Regions from separate parts of the Homo sapiens genome. Here regions 1 and 3 are each linked to region 2. Evidence: fine-mapped expression QTL. A gene starts in region 2. Each other region holds a variant in brackets. All regions are shown on one strand. Distances are between the middles of the regions. Region 1 has its middle 26 kb from the start of HEYL. Region 2 holds the start of PABPC4 (poly(A) binding protein cytoplasmic 4). Region 3 overlaps MACF1 (microtubule actin crosslinking factor 1).

Evidence for each region. PIP is the estimated chance that this variant, and not a neighbour inherited with it, causes the effect. A credible set is the group of variants that fine-mapping cannot tell apart.
Region 1: its variant is the best candidate, but not a certain one, in a credible set for the expression of PABPC4 in unexposed skin (GTEx, PIP 0.86).
Region 3: its variant is the best candidate, but not a certain one, in a credible set for the expression of PABPC4 in transverse colon (GTEx, PIP 0.80).

What each region holds. Positions count from the first base shown.
Region 1 is chr1:39,611,512-39,615,749 of GRCh38, forward strand. No RefSeq gene overlaps it. Among named protein-coding and RNA genes, the nearest start is that of HEYL, 26 kb to the right of the region's middle. RefSeq lists enhancers at 269-438, 1,978-2,147. The variant C/T (reference allele first, on the strand shown) is at 2,063.
Region 2 is chr1:39,574,361-39,578,598 of GRCh38, forward strand. It overlaps PABPC4 (poly(A) binding protein cytoplasmic 4), which reads right to left and starts at 2,430. Exons shown (of 16, transcript NM_001135653.2): 1 at 1,399-2,430. The coding sequence starts at 1,591. RefSeq lists enhancers at 1,115-1,234, 1,255-1,304, 1,805-1,874 and a silencer at 2,375-2,684.
Region 3 is chr1:39,481,936-39,486,173 of GRCh38, forward strand. It overlaps MACF1 (microtubule actin crosslinking factor 1), which reads left to right. Exons shown (of 101, transcript NM_001394062.1): 100 at 2,666-2,795; 101 at 3,603-4,238. The coding sequence ends at 3,859. Among named protein-coding and RNA genes, the nearest start is that of BMP8A, 7.6 kb to the right of the region's middle. The variant C/T (reference allele first, on the strand shown) is at 2,473.

The sequences.
Region 1 (4,238 bases), 37 kb after region 2:
AACCTTTAGCTAGACTCAGAGTGCTGATTGGTGCATTTACAATCTTTTAGCTAGACACAGAGTGCTGATTGGTGCATTTACAATCCTCTAGCTAGACATAAAAGTTCTCCAAGTCCCCACCAGATTAGCTAGATACAGAGTGGTGACTGGTGCATCCACAAACCCCCAGCTAGACACAGAGTGCTGATTGGTGCATATACAATCCTCCAGCTAGACATAAAAGTTCTCCAAGTCCCCACCTGACTCAGAAGCCCAGCTGGCTTTGCCTAGTGGATCCTGTGCCTGGCCGTGGGCAGAGTTGCCCACCAGTCCCGCACTGCGTGCCCGTGTGCCTGCATTACCAAGGGTGAAGGGGCAGTAATCCAAAAGCAGTGGCTGCCAGGGGGACAGGCACAGTGGGTGGCTGTTTGTACTGGATATTGGCCATTTGCAATTTACCTGCAAATCCTTGTGGGCCTGTGCTTCAAAGGGGCCATCAAGTCACTGTGCAGTGGCGGTCAGTCACCCAGCTTTCTGACATCACAAGTTGAATGAAAAGCTTTTAGTCCTGAATCAACAGGAAGAGCTCTAAAGCCTGCAAGGGGCTCTGTCTCATTCCCAGCCCAGCTATAGAAACAGGCCTCTCAGCAGCCCTTTGGGGAGAGATTCAGTGGCACAAACAGAATTTGTGCCGTGCTGAGGGCATGGCTGGCCACTGCAGCCCCACAGGTGTCTTTCTTAGTGGGCACATGATCTCAATTAACTGGGAGGACTGTGGTTTTTTTTGGTCTGTTTTGTTTTGTTGTTGTTGTTGTTGTTGTTGTTGTTGTTTGAGACAGAGTCTCGCACTGTCACCCAGGCTGGAGTGCAGTGGTGCCATCTGGGCTCACTGCAAGCTCCGCCTCCCGGGTTCACGCCATTCTCCTGCCTCAGCCTCCCCAGTAGCTGGGACTACAGGCGCCCACCACCACGCCCGACTAATTTTTTGTATTTTTAGTAGAGACAGTGTTTCACCGTGTTAGCCAGGATGGTCGCGATCTCCTGACCTCGTGATCCGCCCACCTCAGCCTCCCAAAGTGCTGGGATTACAGGCGTGAGCCACCGTGCCCGGCCTTTTTTTTCTTTGTGGAACACATCTGTAACCTTAGAAGATGAAAAATTAATTAACCTCTGTTACCGGTGATGGAACTTTCTTCCTTAGAGTGTCCTTGATGAGGATACTTATGTAACATAACCTCAGGAAGATTTAGAACTAAGACTAGCATGCTAAACCAAAAATTTAAATCTTAGCATTGGCCGGGCATGGTGGTTCACGCCTGTAATCGCAGCACTTTGGGAGGCCGAGGCAGGCGGAACTCTTGTGGTCAGGAGTTCGAGACCAGCCTGACGAACATGGTGAAGCCACGTCTCTACTAAAAATACAAAAATTACCCAGGTGTGGTGCTGCGTGCCTGTAATCCCAGTTACTGAGGAGGCTGAGGCAGAAGAATCGCTTGAACCCGGGAGGCAGAGGTTGCAGTGAGATGAGATTGCATTACTGCACTCCAGACTGGGCTACAGAGTGAGACCCCGTTCTCATAAAAAACAAAGACAAAAAACCTTAGCATTAATATTTCTGTTCAAAGAAATAATCTAGATACATTTAGGGTTTTTGTTTTGTTTTCTGTTTTTGTTTTTGAGACAGGGTCTCACTCTGTTTCCCAGGCTGGAATGCAGTAGCTGGATCTCAGCTCACTGAAACCTCTGCCTCCCCGGCTCAAGTGATCCTCCCACCTCAGCCTCCTGAGTAGATAGGATCACAGGCGTGCGCAACCATGTCTGGCTAATTTTTAAATTTTTTGTGGAGATGAGGTCTCACTATATTGCCCAGGCTGTTCTCAAACTCCTGGGCTCAGGCAATCAGCCTCAGCCTCCCAAAGTCCTGGGATTACAAGTGTGAGTCACAGTGCCCAGCCCTAGTTTTTTAGATAAACAGATTTTTGAGAGAACTTAAGATTCATCCTATTTATAACTTGGATTTACTTGATGTATAAGAATGATTTAAATCTTCAGGAAGGTTTTGTTTATACAGATAACTGAGCGT[C/T]CTGTGTGGGAGCCGCGGGAGCTGCGTGAGGGGAGAAGAAAAGGCACACACACAATACCTTTAAGGGTAAACAAGCTTTATCCCACGTAAATGGCAATGCAGATATAATAAGCAAATGATATAATAAGGAAATTAATATAATAAGCAAATTGATATAAGTAAATGACATAATAAGCAAATTGCAATGGGAAGGGGAGAAGGGAAAAGAGATATACACATATTTACACTCACCAGACTATGGAGGATTCACCACCAGACTGGGAAGCAACAGCCTGGGCTCCAGAGTCGGCCACTCATCCATGCACAGATGAGGAGAGGTCTCATGAAGCTTCAGCGCAGCTGGGACCCTAGCTCTTTTTGTAACGAGTTGTTTGGCATGAGGTCCGGTCACGAGGGCCCTTCATTATCGGTCTCAAGGAACACAAAAAGGTCAACTTGTTTTTGCGATTGTGTGTTGTTTTTCAATAACTAATGTATAGGAATAGATTGAAATAGAGATTCCTCCGAAACAGTGCTGGATGAACGCCTCAAGGGGCTCACACAACCTGTTCAGGGACTTGGTGACCATTGTTTGTGTCCATGTTCAGTTGAGTTCAAATTTAATATTTAACTTTTCTTCCACACTGAGATACTGAAAAAGAAAATCAAACCTATTCATTTACGTTTGAAGATATAAAGTTGTAAAAAGCCCCTTAGAAGCATTTGCTAAAATCTAGATTTTCAAACAAGGTTTGTAAGCTGAATTTTATTTATACTTTTTAAATATTTTATTATTATTAAATTTTAATTTTTTGTAGACATGGGGTCTTGATATGTTGCCCATACTGGTCTCCAGCTCCTAGCCTCAAGTAATCTTCCTGTCTCGGCTGCCTAAATTGCTGGGATTACAGGTGTGAGCCACCACGCCTGGCCAATAGGTTGAATCTTAAGGTTAAGAAAGAATTAGTAGTGTTTTGAACTAGTAACTTTAATAAATAGAAACTAATTGTTTACTCCAGAAATAAACTTCCAAATAGTCTTTTCTGTGACTGAAAACCATCCTCAGGACTCAACCCAAATATGCATCAAAAGGTGAATGGATAAACAAATTGGGATCTATCTGTACAATGGAATACTACACAGCAACGAAAAGAAAGAGCAACTCATTCACAGAACTTGATGAATTTCTAAAGCATTACACTAAGCGAAGAAAGCCAGACTCAAAAGTTTCCCTGCTGTCTAATTCCATTTATACATAGACAAAACCATGGTGGGCCAGGCGTGGTGGCTCACGCCTGTGATCCCAGCACTTTAGGAGGCCGAGGTGGGCGGATCACAAGGTCAGGAGTTCGAGACCAGCCTGGCTAACATGGTAAAACCCTGTCTCTACTAAAAATACTAAAATTAGCTGGGCATGGTGGTGTGTGCCTGTAATCCCAGCTACTGGGGAGGCTGAGGCAGGGGAATGGCTTGAACCCAGGAGGTGGAGGTTGTAGTGAGCCAAGATTGTGCCACTGCACTCTAGCCTGGGTGATAGAGTAAGACTCCGTCTCAAAGCAAAAACAAAAACAAAAACAAAAAACAACCATGGTGGCAGAAACACAGAAACCAGATCAATGCTTGAGACTGGAGGAGGTGATTGGCTGCAAAGGGTTTAGAGGGAGTTTCTGGGTGATAGAAATGCTCTATATCACAATTATGAGGTGATTGCCTGAGTGTTTACACTGGCATGACTCAGCAAATTTTACATTTAACATTGGCGAATTTTGTTGTACATAAATTACACCTCGATAACACAGATTTTTAAAAATAATACTATCCTGGAGACTACCAGAACCCTCCGTATTCAACATGAGGCATGAAACAGGACCATTTTTTTGGAGAATAATGTGGGAAAGGGGAGGGGGCTGTGAGGAGAGAGGCCAAGTAATCACAGAGTCACCATGGAAACCAGGAGAGCCAGCCGGGTGCAGAAGTAGAGTAGGTTCCCCCACTCAAAGTCACCGTGATTGAATGACTCTTTTCTTTTTCTCTCTTTTTTTTTTTTTTTTTTTTTGAGACAGAGTGTCCATCTGTCCCCCAGGCTGGACTGCAGTGGCGCAATCTCGGCTCACTGCAAGCTCCACCACCCGGGTTCACACCATTCTCTTGCCTCAGCCTCCCGAGTAGCTGGGACTACAAGTGCCCGCCACCACGC
Region 2 (4,238 bases):
CACTGCACAAGGCAAGCCGGCTTAGTCTGACAAATCTGGCTGCACTTATTTATAGCAGGGAGAAGTCCTGCAGAAGTATGTGTTGGCAGACACACTGACCAATAGCTTCTGCTATCTCTAAGTGACACGACTTTTGTTCAAAAGTCAGTAAGGCAGACAACAGCTAATGTGGTACATTATCCCTTAAAAAGACCACACTCAGCTACCTTTGCGCTCCTATGGCCATGGACAGAACTCAGCTTGGAGCACACTGGATTGACAGTAGCAATACCTAGTCCCTCTCAACATGTCCAATTCTCTGGTCTCAGCCGCAACCTGGGCAGGTAGTAACTCTGGGCCTCAGACAGAAAACAAAGGGGGGACCCCAAAACTAGGGACCTGGAGATGCTTTGCCATAGAATGGCTTGTTTCTCCCAGTAATGATCTCTGCAGTTGTTCCCTTTTAATCTGGAGTCACGTGCAGCCTCTGATCAGGTTTCCTCTGGCCTCCCTCCTGCCACGCCTGCAGCATACCTCTCTCCATGCTCCACGCTAAGGCCACAATCTGAGGTGGCAGAGCACTGTGCTGGGAGTCCTAACTTGGCTTCCAACTTTTTGCATTCGTTCTCCTTCTCAGGAGTCCCATTTTCTTCAGATTAGATGAAATAAAAGGGCTCTGACTAGTGCAAAGCACTGTTACAGCTGAGGTGACAAATGACACCAGATTTTCAAGTGACGCTTCCCTAAACTACCTCCACGACACTCTACAGCACAGAGCCTGGATACCATTTGTCCAGAGTAAAGCACTTCTCCACTCCAGTGGCAAACACACAGACCAAGGAGGTGGCCTGGCACACGCAGCTTTTGTGGCACTAACCTAAGTCTCTGCGAAAGTTTAACGCACAGAAACCTTCCCCCTGCTTCCTGCCTGCCCTGACTGATCCTTTATCAGCACAACATCAGGTAGTCAAGGTTAGTAAAGGTGGCGGAGCGGGCAGGAGCTTTACAATGTAAAACTTTCGCGGGGAATTGTGTTTCAAACGTCCCGCCTTTTTGGCCAGCCTGTGAGGGGCACAAGCAAGGATCTCTAACAGCCCAGCCCCACTGACAAGGACCACACGCAGTGGAATGCCAGTGGCTTCACTCTAATCCTGTTTTACAGTCTCCTTGGTTTCCAACCCCACTACCAGCAACACTAATAAGTAGCCCAAGGTCACCCAGTTAGCAAGTGGTAGAAACAAGATTGAAACTCGAGTCATCTGATGCCAGGTCCGCGTTCTCAATCTCCGCACCCTGCTCCCAGCTTCGGTGGCAACATGCTGTCGTGATGCCGCCCTCCTCGGCAGGAGGGCCCTGCCAGAAGACGACTCCCGGGGTCCTCCGGGCTCCCACGCACGTGTGGGCACAGCTTCTACTCACCGTCGGCCGGCTGCTGGAAGTTGACGTAGGCATAGCCCAGGGAGCGGCGGGTGATCATATCGCGGCAGACCCGGATGGACAGCACAGGCCCCGCGGGGCTGAACTTTTCGTACAGCATGGCCTCGGTGACGTCCGAATGCAGGTCGCCCACGTACAGGGAGGCCATGGGGTAGCTGCTGGCCGCAGCGTTCATCTCCCCGCCCCCCACCACCCCGAGCCCCGCCAGGAGGACTTCTTATCGGGCCCGCCGCAGGACAAAGGGGCGCCTTCGGAGCCCGGGCCCGCGCCGCGGCTCACAGGTGGCACCGGCGCGGCGAGGACGAGCTGGAGTCGGCGGGCTTGGAGACGGGACGGAAACGGGAGGCGGGGGCCGGCTCCCACGGCCGCAGCACCGCAGACAAAAGGCTCTCCGCACAATACGGCCCTCCCCGCGACTTTGCACTTCTCCGCGGTCCTGGTGCGAAGCTCCAAATTTCAAAAAATCAAAGTAGGAAAAAAATTAAACGGGGAATCCCCTTCCGAAGGGTAAAAATCCTTTAAGAGGCGACCGGACGCTGCCCACGGCGGCCTCGGGGACACGCGTTTCTCTATAAATATAGGCCTCGGGCTCCGGCGGTTTAAGATTACAACCGCCGGGGCAGAGGGAAACCAAATCTTTGTGGGCGCCGACTCGGCGAGCCCCGGGCGGGCGGCGAAGGGCAGCACGGACACGTGGTGCGCCGGGGCAGGCGCGGGGCGCGGGGCTCGGGGCCCGAGCGGGGGGAGGGCACGGCGGGCCGGGCGGGCGGCTCACCCCCGGACCGACGGACGGAGACCGACGGACGCCAAGCGCTGCGGCGGCGGGCGCGGGGCAGGCCGGAAGCGTACGAAAGTGACTTCCCCGCGGGTTCTCCGAGGATTCGTTTTTTCTTTTCCTTTTTTTTTTTCAGGATTTTGAAGCGTTTTCAGATTTTTTTTATCTTTTTCTCTTTTTTTCCTCAGGCTGCGAAGCCCGAAAGCGGCGGAGGCGGCAGCGACCCGGGGCGGAGAGAGGCGGCCGAGGGAGCCACCGCTCCATTTATACCCGCCCGCCCCGGGCGCTGCTGGTCGAAGGGCGCCTCGCGACCTGGGCGCAGTCGTGCCCGCCCACTCGGCCCGGGGGCCCGAGGCGGGGCGGCCACGCGAGAGCGACCCGGCGCGGCCGCGCGGCGCTACAGCGACCCCTGGCGCCGGGAGGACCGCCCAGCTCGCGGCTGCGGGAGACCCCAGGGCCCCTTTCTATAACAAATAAATCTTAACACCCTCCCACCCATCACCCGGGAATGGAACCTAGGAGCCATTTAACCTGCACACACGCATGAGGTTTAAAATTAAATGGTATGGGGCTGGGTGCAGTGGCTCACGCCTGTAATCCCAGCACTTTGGGAGGCCGAGGCGGATGGATCATGGAGGTCAGGAGATCGAGACCATCCTGGCTAACGCGGTGAAACCCCGTCTCTACTAAAAATACAAAACATTAGCCGGGCGTGGTGGCATGCGCCTGTAGTCCTAGCTACTCGGGAGGCTGAGCAGGAGAATAGCTTGAACCCGGGAGGCGGAGGTCGCGGTGAGCCAAGATCGTGCCACTGCACTCCATCCAGCCTGGGCAACAGAGTGAGACTCCCTCTCAAAAAAAAAAAAATTAAATGGTATGCCAAATTGTGAAATGAAGGTGACATAAAATAAGTTAAAATAAAATAATAGGTGGTCCAATAGGTAAATGTCTGGGTCCAAATACAATAAAGATTTGAGAAGTTTTCAGGATACCGTTGACCTAGAGGTAGAATCGTCAGGAACTAGAAATGCAAGCAGTATCCATGGGTGATGGGATTTTCTGAAAAGATGAGCACATTTTGGTAAAGCTTCAATGAAACCAAACACAAGCATCCCCTCTATTGACATGCTGGTGGCATTCCCGGACATTTAGTTTGTGTTTAAGGGCACAGAAATACTTTCTGTTCCTATGTTTAAAGTTTCTTCTAGGCTTGGATAATTATAAAAAGACTTTTCATCTGCATGAGAGTCTGGCAGGTCATTTGAAAGTCGTATCACAGGCCAGGCGTGGTGGCTCACGCCTGTAATCCCAGCACTTTGGGAGGCCGAGGCGGGCGGATCACTGAGGTCGAGAGTTCGAGACCAGCATGACCAACATGAAGAAACCCCCGTCTCTCCTAAAAATACAAAAAGTAGCCAGACATGGGGGTGCATGCCTGTAATCCCAGCTACTCAGGCGGCTAAAGCAGAAGAATCGCTTGAACCCGGCAGGCAGAGGTTGTGGTGAGCTGAGATCATGCCATTGCACTCTAGCCTGGGCAACAAGAGCGAAACTCCGTCTCAAAAAAAAAAAAGTCATATCACTTTATAGGACTATGTTATATGGGACTGTCCACACGCATTACAAGATATATAGCATCCCTTCTTCCATAAGTGCCAGGAACCACCTTTGCCATCACTGTGAAAACCAAAAACAGAAATTGCCAAAAGACACAGACATCCCCCTTCAAAAGCACTGATTTAAGTAAATGACTAAAGAAATATGTGTATTTATATATTAATTAATTCAAATAAATGGTTAATCTGAGCCTACTCTATGCCAATGTCAATACAGGGGCTGGAGATACCATGGTGGACCAGAAGTCACTCCCTCTCTCATGGAGTTTATATTCTAATAACTATATTAAATCAAGAAACATTGGCTGGGCACGATGGCTCACACCTGTAATCCCAGCACTTTGGCAGGCTGAGGTGAGCGGATCACCTGAGGTCAGGAGTTCGAGACCAGCCTGGCCAACATGGTGAAACCCCATCTCTACTAAAAATAC
Region 3 (4,238 bases), 92 kb before region 2:
TAGAATATGATCTGGGGACCTACTGCCACTAAACTACTAGACTCACCCTGCTTATCTTGCTTTTCTTCTTTCCTTAATGGCTCCAGTTTCATAAAAATCTCAGTTCTATTTTAAATTTTAGATGTTTAATGATGTACAAATTCTCATACAGTTCTGATAAATCAGGGCTTTTGTTCTGTCTTAAGGTTTTATTTTCTGTTTCATTTCATTTTGAGGCTTCATCTTTCCTTACTTATTGGTGTTCTGTAGCCAGGCCATCTCCTGACTTGGAATTCTAGCCCGGGTTCTAGCTGTGGTCTTCCAGCAGCAGTGCGCAGGAACCTTAGCTTCTGAAACTGGTGTTCTTCCTCCTATGTGGCCAGGAAATTTTGTGCTTGAGTGTTAATCACTTTCTATCGCTTATGCTTTTTCTTTATAAATTTAAGAAGTACAGCAAACAATGAGATGGATTGCTTTTCTCTTCTGTTTGCATAAACGTCTTAAAGGTCCTGGAAAACAATTTACATAATTGATTTCAAAGAAAAATTAGAATGGCATGCTGTAGCATGTGGCATAAGTAATGTTTTGGGGGTTTTTTTGTTTGTTTGTTTGTTTGTTTTTTCATTTTTTAAAAAGCAAAGTAGAGACAAGGTCAAATAATGGATGTTTAAAACATTTAAGGATCAGCCTGGTCAACATGGCAAAACCCCATCTCTACTAAAAATACAGAATTAGCTGGGTGTGGTGGCAGGCGCCTGTTGTCCCAGCTACATGGGAGGCTGAGGCAGGAGATCACTTGAACCTGGGAGGCAGAGGTTGCAGTGAGCCAAGATTGTGCCACTGCACTCCAGCCTGGGCAACAGAGTGAGACTGCCTCAAAAAAAAAAAAAAAAAAAAAAAACCCCACACAGATTTAAGGCTGGACATGGTGGCTCACCCCTGTAATCCCAACACTTTGTGAGGCCGAGGTGGGCAGATCACTTGAGCCCAGGAGTTCAAGACCAGCCTGGGCAACATGGAGAAACCCTGTCTCTACAAAAAATACAAAAATAAGCCAGCCACTAGGGAGGCTGAGGTGGGAGGATTGCTTGAGCCTGGGAGGTCGAGGCTGCAATGAGCCATGAAGTATGCCACTGTGCTCCAGTCTGGGTGATGGAGCAAGACTCTGTCTCAAAAAAAAAAAAAAAAAAAAAAAAAACACCCACACATTTAAAATACTCTTTTTCCTCCAGTTAAGCCTACTATCTAAAAAACCAAAAAAAATCACTCAAATAGGAAACATAGCACCTATTGGTAGCAGTGATAATAATATGTAGCTCTTTTCCAGTTTGGGAAATGCTTCTATTCATCATTTATTCATGCAAGTTTTTATTGAGTTCCTCTTCTGTGCTGTGCAGAACACAGGAAGCAGGGGAGAGAATAGAAGTGTACAAGCAGTGTTCTGAGTAGTGAGACAAGACCTCTCTACTAAGGTCATCCTTTCAATAGAGCCCCTGCAGGGAATGAGGGGGTGAGCCACACGTGTATCTGGGGTAGGCTTGGGGTGTGGTGATTGTGCAACAACAGTCCAGGCAAAATGAACAGCAAGGGGACAAGACTGGTGGACCCTCACTGGGCCATTGGTGGAACAGCAAGGAAGCTAGTGTGGCTGGGATGGACTGATGAGGAGTGTGGTAGAAATGAAGTCAAAGAGGCAGGATTTAATCCCTGATTTCCCAAGAGAGAAGCAAAGACACAGGTGTTAATTTCAATCAGTCCTGGAACCCAGACTCAAACCCAGGTCTCCTGGTTCTTCATGCACAGACTTGTTCCTGATGTCTCAGTCCCACAGTCGTGTGCTTCTCATAGTTTATTTGATCCACAAGTTAAGTAATTTTATCTGCATTTTACCAGTAAGGATAATGACTAAAAGATCTTACTAAAGTTACTGCACCTACTTAGTGTTAAGAGATTGGGGCCAGGTGCGGTGGCTCACACCTGTAATCCTAGCACTTTGGGAGGCTGAGGTGGGCAGATCACAAGGTCAGGAGATCGAGACCATCCTGGCTAACACGGTGAAACCCCGTCTCCACTAAAAAATACAAAAAAATTAGCTGGACGTGGTGGCGGGTGCCTGTAGTCCCAGCTACTTCGGAGGCTGAGGCAGGAGAATGGTGTGAACCCAGGAGGCAGAGCTTGCGGTGATCCGAGATTGCACCACTGCACTCCAGCCTGGGTGACAGAGCGAGACTCCGTCTCAAAAAAATAAAATAAAAAAAGATTGGAGTAATACTTGAATCTCCATATCAAATAGGTGGGCTAAAACTCATTTCAAATTTTTAACCCCAAAATCTTGATACCTAGTATTATTTGAATTTCTTTTTCCTTTACTCATTCACCATAATTGTTTGTTGTAACTATTGTATTCTTACTGAGGATTTTTTTTTTTTCATTTCTAGGGGAAATTAGTAAAACAAAAGGTATTTGAAGACATTTTGAAATTTTTATTTGGAA[C/T]ATAAAACTTTGATTTTGGGAATTATCAAAATATATGACCTAGGATACTTTAAGAGAAATCTTTGTTTTCCTGGACTTTTAATTTGCTTTTCAACTAAGCAAATATAAGGAGGTGTAAGGAGACCTTTTAAAGTTGAATTTCTGGCAAAGATTTTACCAAGTAAAATGTGACCTTTTTATTATTTTTTTTAAGGTTATCCCATCATCAGGTAGCAAGTTGAAACGACCAACACCAACTTTTCATTCTAGTCGGACATCCCTTGCTGGTGATACCAGCAATAGTTCTTCCCCGGCCTCCACAGGTGCCAAAACTAATCGGGCAGGTAAGTACCTGCCCCGTGACCTACAAGCCAGGCTGAGAATTTGGAAACAACAGCCTATGTGGAATGTTTCACTGCTCCCAAGGAGCGGGTAATGAGAGTGGCACTTAGTGTGATGCCCAGAAAGACAGACCTGCAGATGCTCAAGTGACCTTTACTTTTTCTGTCATTACAGCTAGCTTTAAGCTTTCCTTCTGAGATGAGATGCTTCCACAGCCAAAGCTGGGCCATGCGTTCTCATCAGAAATGATCACATTTGAGAGAATGTAAAAGGAAATGTGGGTCTTCCTCAGACACCAGTCCAGTGTTGGGATGAGCAGCTTGCTAGTAATTTTTCCAACACGTCATACTTACTATGGCTGCTGTTGAACCAAGAAAGGCAGGGGAAGATCACATCTGTTCTCCTGCTACTGTTCCTCATGGGAACCTAGGAATCTTCCTTCATTTCCTGGCTGGCTGCTTCCCCTCATTTTGCCTCTATCCATCCTGCCCATGGATTAGCCCGGCTGGCAGGCTCACCCACCTGTGCTGAGGTGGTTGAGCAACCTTGCTTGCCTCCACTTTGGGGCCATGGAAGGTGACAGTGCTGCTGATAGAGTGGCTTTCTAATCCCCAGGAGGCAGCTTCTCAAGTAGAATCACAAAGCCAGAAAAGGCTTCAGCAACTTCTGTATGGATGAGGAAACTGGGGTGCAGAAAGGCTGTGAGATTTGCTTAAGATCACACAGGATCAGAACCCTAGCTTCTGCTCACTTGTTCTTCCACCCCATGCCATCTCTATTAAGTCTGCTGTTTTATTCTTGAATTCCAGACCCTAAAAAGTCTGCCAGTCGCCCTGGGAGTCGGGCTGGGAGTCGAGCCGGGAGTCGAGCCAGCAGCCGGCGAGGAAGTGACGCTTCTGACTTTGACCTCTTAGAGACGCAGTCTGCTTGTTCCGACACTTCAGAAAGCAGCGCTGCAGGGGGCCAAGGCAACTCCAGGAGAGGGCTAAACAAACCTTCCAAAATCCCAACCATGTCTAAGAAGACCACCACTGCCTCCCCCAGGACTCCAGGTCCCAAGCGATAACACTGTCTAAGCACCCCCAAGCCACTATCCACTTTGAATCCTGCTCCATACATTGGGTGTATATTTATTCTGAACGGGAGAAGTTATATTGTTAAAAGTGTAAAAGAATAATTGTGTTATGAAGCTGCCTTATTTTTTTTCTTTTTGTAAGTTACTATTTTCATGTGAATATTTATGTAGATAAAATTTGCCTCCTGGTAACCCTGTAATGGATGGGGCCCAGAAATGAAATATTTGAGAAAAACAAGTGAAAAGGTCAAGATACAAATGTGTATTAAAAAAAAAAAAGCCTATTAATAGGGTTTCTGCGCGGTGCAGGGTTGTAAACCTGCTTTATCTTTTAGGATTATTCCTAAATGCATCTTCTTTATAAACTTGA